2 linked regions of the Homo sapiens genome follow. The protein of the gene in region 2 purifies or fractionates together with the protein of the main gene of each other region. This does not show direct contact. Each region holds a gene or a part of one and is shown on either strand. Other genes may lie near its edges.

Evidence for each region.
Region 1: the proteins of SLC35D3 (region 2) and GPCPD1 purify together in Homo sapiens (affinity purification with mass spectrometry; 3 studies listed by BioGRID and IntAct, with this or other methods). This does not show direct contact.

Annotation. Positions count from the first base shown.
Region 1 is NC_000020.11:5,555,386-5,559,295, reverse strand, and holds part of GPCPD1 (glycerophosphocholine phosphodiesterase GPCPD1), read left to right. Parts: intron 1-476; coding exon 477-612; intron 613-1,190; coding exon 1,191-1,351; intron 1,352-3,910. UniProt on the Homo sapiens protein: May be involved in the negative regulation of skeletal muscle differentiation, independently of its glycerophosphocholine phosphodiesterase activity.
Region 2 is NC_000006.12:136,920,353-136,924,262, reverse strand, and holds the start of SLC35D3 (solute carrier family 35 member D3), read right to left. Parts: upstream 1,963-3,910; 5' UTR 1,835-1,962; coding exon 1,396-1,834; intron 379-1,395; coding exon 1-378. UniProt on the Homo sapiens protein: Probable UDP-glucose transmembrane transporter involved in UDP-glucose transport from the cytosol to the lumen of synaptic vesicles. It is involved in platelet dense granules maturation.

The sequences.
Region 1 (3,910 bases), on a different chromosome or scaffold from region 2:
AGGCAACGCATGTTAATGGTGGTTTTAGCTGAGAAATGGGAATATGTTTCTTTGTTTTCTTTCTTTCTTTTTTTTTTAAATCTATTTATTTATTTGAGACAGAGTCTTGTTCTGTTGCCCAGGCTGGAGTGCAGTGGTGTGATCTCGGCTCACTGCAACCTCTGCCTTCAGGTTTCAAGTGATCTGGTGCCCCAGCCTCCTCGGTAGCTGGGATTACAAGCCTGTGCATGATACTCGGCTAATTTTTGTATTTTTAGTAGAGATGGGATTTCGCCATGTTGTCCAGGCTGGTCTTGAACTCATGACCGCAAGTGCTCTGCCCGCCTTGGCCTCCCAAAGTGTTGGGATTACAGGTGTGAGCCACCATGCCCGGCCTCGTTTGTTTTCTTTATACTTTCAGTGTTTTCTAAAATTCCAAAAAGGAATATTACAGTTACCCCCCATTGAAAGGTATTTTTAAAATTGTTTCTTTTCAGGGTTCGGCAAAAGCAGAACAAATATCCGATACTATTTTTAACTCAAGGAAAATCTGAGATTTATCCTGAACTCATGGACCTCAGATCTCGGACAACCCCCATTGCAATGAGCTTTGCACAGTTTGAAAATCTACTGGTAAGTTATGTTTGAATTTTTATCTTTTTAATGTTCTGTTTTCTATTTTGGAGTAGTAGTAAAGATTTCATATTACTTTACCCATCTAATGTTAACGTTTTGACTAAACTGTAGCAAACAAGTGGCTCTACTTAAAAACGAGGATATTAGATCTCAGGATGAAAAACAATTACATTAAGTACAAAATTTGTTATAGGCATACGTTAAATTTTTTAGTTTAACTTTCTGAATAGATTTTATGAATAATCTAAAAATGTTCAGACTGTATGCCTTTTAAAAATATTATTCCCATTTTACAGATGAACGTGAACTTGTTTTGGTAGAGCATTCCATTAGTACATTTTTTGACTGCACATTCAATATGTATGCTTATACATTATGTATATATTAATATATTGTGAATATATTTATGTATGAAGTGTCCATTAAAAAGAATAAGTTAAAGTAATTGGAAGAAAAAAATCTACCATTTTCTTTTCCCGCCTGCTGTACTTTGGAGAGCACTGATTTAGAGTGTGAGCATTTAGCTTTGCAGTTAATGTTTCTTTTTCATGCACAACTAATTTTTCTTCTTCTAGGGGATAAATGTACATACTGAAGACTTGCTCAGAAACCCATCCTATATTCAAGAGGCAAAAGCTAAGGGACTAGTCATATTCTGCTGGGGTGATGATACCAATGATCCTGAAAACAGAAGGAAATTGAAGGAACTTGGAGTTAATGGTCTAATTTATGATAGGTATTTGTTTTTCATGAAAAATTTTCATGGAATTTAGAAGTATAGATTTCATCTTACGAAATTATAAATAAAATTAAACTTAGTTAAGTTAAAATTCTGCAGTTCAGCCTGAGGTTATCTTGACATTTGCCTGTGGGTGTTTTCAAAGTTTGAAGGATAGCAGAATCACTTGGGAAGCTTGTTAAGGATTCAAATGACTGGGCCTTAACTCAGATATATATACTAAATCACCCTGGGGGTGAGGGTGACTGCCAGCCCTTAGACCTCTTCTCTGTCTATACCAACTTTTTCATTCCTCTTGTCCAATTCTGTGGCTTTTCATAACTTTCTGTGTTCTCACACTTACGTATCTCCAACTCAGACCCTTCCCTAGACCTCTGTAGACTTTTATTTCCAGGTACTGACACCTGTTCCTCTTACAGTCTTCCTGATTTCAGTATAAGTGACAATTCAGACCATATTCTTAGTCTTCCATGACTCTGTTCTTTATCTCATACCCCAAATCCAGTCAGATAGAAAATCTTTTTGTTCTGTCTTCAAAATATATCCTGAATCAGACTACTCACCAAGTTAACTGTTGTCACTCAAGTAAAGCAGCTCATCTTTGGTGTGGATTGTTGAGGTAGCCTGCCCCCTGGTGACTGCCTCTACCCTTAACGGTCAGGCTGTTTATTCTTAGTACAGTAGTGAGAGGGAAGCTTTTAAGACCTATGTCTGATCATGTTGCTACTTAAAACTCTCCCACAGTTTTCTGTGTCACCTAAAGGAAAAGCTGAAGCCTGAGGGCCCTATATGAGCCAATCTGCCACCCCACCACCTTCAACCCTCTTTCCCTCTCTGACCTTCCACAAAATTCCCCCATCTGCTGTTTCCCATTCTTTGGAGAAAGACTTCCGTAACAATTTAAATGTCACCTCAGTGAGGACTTTCTTGAATAACTGATTTCAAATAACAACTTCTATTCACAGTGCACTCCCTGACTTGTCTCCATATCATTTATCATCATCTGACACACCACATATTCTGTGTTACATTTTACTTGTTTTTCTCCCTAGCCCCTTTCCTCCATCCTCCTGGGCACTAATGCACACATGCAAATGAGAATATAGGCTCCATGAGGAGGGCAAGGCTGTTTGCCTGATTTGTTCATTGCTATTGAGGTTAGAACAATGTGGGGCATCCAGTAGGGAGTCAAATAATTTATTGAACAAATATTTTTTTTTCCATCAGCTTCTTTGGCAGCCACTAATCTGAGAGTCAAAAAGGTTTCTTTAGTATAAAGATATTTGGGGTTAGAAGGGATGTCATTTACTCTGCTGAGGGATTAGCAGACTTGCTCATACAGGTGTACCTCAGCGATAGTGAAGGCTGGGATCCAGACCACCACAGCAAAGCAAGTCCTAAATCTTTTGGTTCCGAGTGCATATAAATGTTATGTTTAGGCCGGGCGCAGTGGCTCACGCCTGTAATCCCAGCACCTTGGGAGGCTGAGGCGGGCAGATCATGAGATCAGGAGTTTGAGACCAGCCTGACCAACATGGTGAAACCCTGTCTCTACTAAAAATACAAAAATTAGCCGGGTGTGGTGGCACATGCCTGTAATCCTAGCTGCTCGGGGCTGAGGCAGGAGAATCACTTGAACCCAGGAGGCAGAGGTTGCAGTGAGCCGAGATCGCGCCACTGCACTCCAGTCTGGGTGACAGAGTGAGACTCTGTCTAAAAAAAAAGTTATGTTTATACTACATTGTAGTTTACCAAGTGTACAGTAGCGTTGTGTCTGAGAAAACACAGTATATATCTTAATTTTAAAATACGTTATTACTAGGAAATGCTAACAATCTACCTTCAGCAAATCATAATCATTTTGCTGCTGGAGGGTCTTGCTTTGATGTTGATGGCTGCTGACTGATTAGGGTGGTGGTTGCTGAAGGTTGAGGTGGCTGTGGCAGTTTCTTAAAATAAGACACAAATGAAGTCTGCTGTACCCGTGGACTCTTCCTTTTACACAATATTTCTCTGTTGCACATGATGGTGTTTAAGAGCATTTTTCACCCACAGTAAAACATCTTTTTTATTTGTTTTTGCTTTTTGAGACAGAGTCTCACTCTTAATACCCTGGCTGGAGTGCAATGGCATGATCTTGGCTCACTGCAACCTCCATCTCCTGGGTTCAAGCGATTCTTCTGCCTCCTGGGTAGCTGGGATTACAGGCGCACGCCTGCCACCATGCCTGGCTAATTTTTGTATTTTTACTAGAGAAGAGGTTTTGCCATGTTGGCCAGGTTCTTGAACTCCCGACCCCAAGTGATCCACCCGCCTTGGCCTCCCAAAGTGCTGTGGGATTACAGGTGTGAGCCACCGCGCCCTGCCAAAACATCTTTATTTTTATTTTATTATTATTTTTTTGAGATTGAGTCTCGCTCTGTCGCCCAGGCTGCAGTGCAATGGCACAATCTCGGCTCACTGCAACCTCCGCCTCCCAGGTTCAAGTGATTCTCCTGCCTCAGCCTCCCGAGTAGCTGGGACTGCAGGCATGCACAACCACATCCAGCTAATTTT
Region 2 (3,910 bases):
CCACCATGCCCACCGTGATGGTGGCGATGCTCTTCACCACACCCACGAAGCTGGTGGTCACGGCCGAATTGATGTAGGTGCAGTGCAGCGTGGTGAAGTTCATGGCGCAGCCGATCAGGATGCAGGCCACGAAGATGCAGACCATGGCCGGGTCCTTCCAGCCCGGGAAGGTCCAGGCGTGGATGGAGTCGGTGCTGGCGAAGGAGCAGATGACCAGCAGCGGGGTGGCAGAGACGGCGATGACGTACTGCGCGGTGAGCGGCCCGTGCTCGGTGTCTGCGCTGGCCTTCTGGATGAGCACCAGGTAGGCAGCGTGCACCAGCACCGCCAGCACTCCCGTGACGTACCCGATGGGGTCGCCCGTCAGGTCGCCGGCTCCTGCGGCGCACGAGGAGGACGGCCGAGCCCGGGCGGGAAGGAAAAAGAGAGAAGACAGCAGGTTGGCGTGGGCGGGGACCCACGGGGAAAACGCGTCGGGTAGGAAAGGAGACTGGGTTCGCGCCCCAGCTCTGCCCACCGGATTCCTGAGTGACAGACGCCCGCCGTCCCTCGGCCACCCGTGTCAAATGCGACAGCCAAACTCAGTGCTCAGAGCGCCTTCCCGCCATATCCCCGGGTCACTCCATCTTCCTCTGTCCAAGACAAAGGCCCCGGAGAGCGCAGATGCCCTCGGGGCAGGTGCTGTGGCTTCCCCGAGCTGGCACCGAGGTCACTTGGGCGCGTGGTACCTGCACCCCGGAGCCCCTGCCCCGTGGGGCACCAAAGGGAGAGGGAGCCCCAGCCAGTGGCCTGCAACCCGGAGCGGGCCAGGCGCGGGGGAGAACGCCTGTTCTGGCCCCCAGTGAAGCTTCCCCCTGCCCAGGCTCTCGTCTCGCTCAGCACCTGGGTCGTCTGCCCCAGGGCCGCAGCCCCCTGCGCAGCACGAGACACCCCGCAGTAGCCCCGGGAACCCTCAGCTTCGCCCCCATCCCCCACCTCCATTCCAGCCCCTCGTGACCCAAGGAAGTTCACGGCCCCCTCCTTCCGGCTTGGTCCAGGCTTGGAGGACTCCAGCTCCCAGGCTCAGGCGGCCCTCCCACCTCTCCCGGAGAATGGGGTGACAGGGGAAGACCAGGAGAGGGGGCGACAGGAAGGGCGATGCCGGGTGAAGCATGGGCGAGGGTCGGAAGCCAGGACATTAGGGGGCAGGGGGACTTGGTGGGGCGCTGGGGAGCTCTCTGGGTCTCGGAAGTCCCTTTTGCGAGCTGAGCGACCACTCTCAAAGCTCTCCGGCTCTCTCTGCCTCAGTCTCCCCATCTGGAAGTGAGGTCGTTGAACTCAGTGATCCCCGCGGTCTCTGCCCGACGGAGCGGGGTGGGTGGGGTCGGCTGGGGGTCGGCGCGGGGGCCCGCTCACCTGCCAGGGCGGCGCCGCAGGTGGTGATGAGCACCGCCGCCAGCACCCCTGGCGAGGGCGCGCCGTTCTTGAGCACCAGGACGCCGATGAGCATGGTGACCAGGGGCAGGCAGCGCTTGAAGACCACGTACATGGGCAGGCTGAGGCCGCGCAGGGACCAGAGCGTGAGGCTGGACTGCAGCGTGGAGAGCACCGCGACCCCCGCGAAGGAGCGCGCCAGGCTCAGACCGAAGGGGGGCACGGCGATGAGCCCGAGGCGCCGCAGCAGCTCCAGGCTCAGCGCCGCGGTGGAGCTGGTCAGGCACTGCACCAGGGTCAGGAAGGAGAACTGGTAGCGGCTGATGAGGAACTTGAGCAAGATGTTGAGGGAGCCCGAGAAGACCCCGTGCGCGATGGCCACCGAGATGCCCAGCACGCGGCCCCGGCACAGCTGCCGCATCGCGCCGGCCTCGCCGCACCCAGCGGTGGCGGAGCTCCGCGACCTGCGCGCGAGGAGCCGGGAGCAGCGGAGTGAGGGCGGCGGGGGCGCCCGCCCAGCGCGGCGGCGAAGGGCAGGGGGCGCCGGCTCGGCTGCAGAGGGCAGCTCCGGCCAGGCGTTCTTGCGGTTAGGCAGCTCTGCGTCCGACTGCCCCGCAGCTCCGGGGAGGCAGTGACGAGGGCGGGGGACTCCGAAAAGTGGCAGAGGTGGCGGGGGGGCCGGTCTGAGAGGAGTGGCGGGAATCCTAGCGACAGCTATTTGTAAGTGGGTGATGAGCCGCGGTGGGTTGTGTCCCGCGCGGTTTCACCGTCAGGGAAGACGCTCTGCGGAGGGAAGCGGGCGGCTGGGCGCCCCGGGGCGGCTGCCGCAGGGCGGGACGGGGGCTCTTGGGGCGCGGCGCCCCTCTCCCCCCACAGAGCCAGCGGCTCTCGCTTGCCCCTTCCTCCTGGCCGAGGGGCTTGGGTTGGAGGGATCGGGACACAGCTAAAGATTTTAGAAACAGCGCATCAGGATCGAGCGCCGTTTATTGGTCGCAACAAGTGACGGCGCCCCCAGCCCCCTCGCCCCGGCGCTGCAGCGGCTTTTTCCACCCACTGTCCCTCCCGGTGCAGCGGCGGGACCTCGTCCAGCTGCCCGCCAGGGAAGCGAAAACCGTCGGTGCCGGCGGGCCCCCGAAGCTCCCGATCCCGGCGACGACGCCCGGGCATCGGAGGAGGAACCCGCGGCCCGGGGCGCTGTCCAGGGGGTGCCTCGGAGCCCGGAAGCTGGCTCCTTCCGGTGCCAGGCCACGCGCACCGCTCTCCGCACGCCTTCCAGAGAGGGTCCCGGGATTATGCGCGCGGCTCCGGGGAAGCTTTCAGGGGGTTCAGTGGTCTCGCCCAGCAGCGGGGCCTGGTGGCGGGGACACATTCGAACTGAGGCAAAGATGAAAATAAGCAAACGCGCAGAAACGAAGTCACTAACACGAGTAGCCACCACCAGGAACCGAGGAGCTCGGGGGCGACGCTTCCCGAAGCGTGGGAGGGGAGGCTGGCTGCGCTCGCAGAATGGGAGAGTAGAGGGGGAGGGGGCGGGAACCCGGGGCCCCTCACCCTGCAGGGAGACTCCGCGTGGCGTTCTCCGGATCCCAGGGAACTGATCCCAGGGAACCCTCACCCTGCGGGACCGTCGTGGGTTGCTTTCGGAAGCAGGACAACCGGCAGGCGGAGGGCGGGGAGAGTCACCACCTCCCTGGGCCAGGGTTCACACCTTTGCACCACAGGACTTGTGAACTGTGTGTTTCCTATATGACTAAGAGAAAAAGGGAATTCTAATTTTGGAGAGGGAGTAAGGCTTCGGTAACTCTTTGTTCTGAATTCAGTTCCCTGGAAAGTAACTCGCGCGGACCTGTAGTTAAATCAGCAGCAGCCAAGGGTTTCGCTCAGCCGAGGTAACCGTTAAGCGCCAGACAGTTTGGTTTTCAGGCGATTTGAAATTTGTGGCCTTGGCCAGGGTTTGGCTATAAGGGAAAGGTTCGAGATCGCTGCGCTCCAGCACCCCTTTCGTTCACCACCAGCAGTTTATTTCTCTTAGCCCCGGGAATCGTAACCTCCTAACCTTTTAGCGCTGCATCACGTTGCCTTAATAGACAGGATCCATTTCTCTCGTGGTTCTTCTGTTTTCTGCCTCTTACTTCCACCTCTGTGCTGAACGCGACACTTCAGCCAAAGTGCTGAAGTCGTGATTTACCGCAACAGAGGAAGAAAAAAAAATTACAGCAGGGATCAGCAGCATCACAGCAGCCCTTCATTTGGGCCAGCATTTGGGGCTCTGGATGCTCACTTTGGTGAGCTCTAGAGAGCTCGGGGTCAACCAGTCCACCAGCTTATGTGCCCGGTGCCTAGGAGGGCCACGTCCCTGCTCCCGACAGGTGGGCACTCAAAAAAAGTTTGTGAATGGCCCAGGGTGCCAACTTTCCAGGAATAGCTGGAAAGCATTATACTGAAACACGTGCTTCCGGTTCTCTGGGGAGCCCTTGGTTTTTGTTGCTAAAACTTG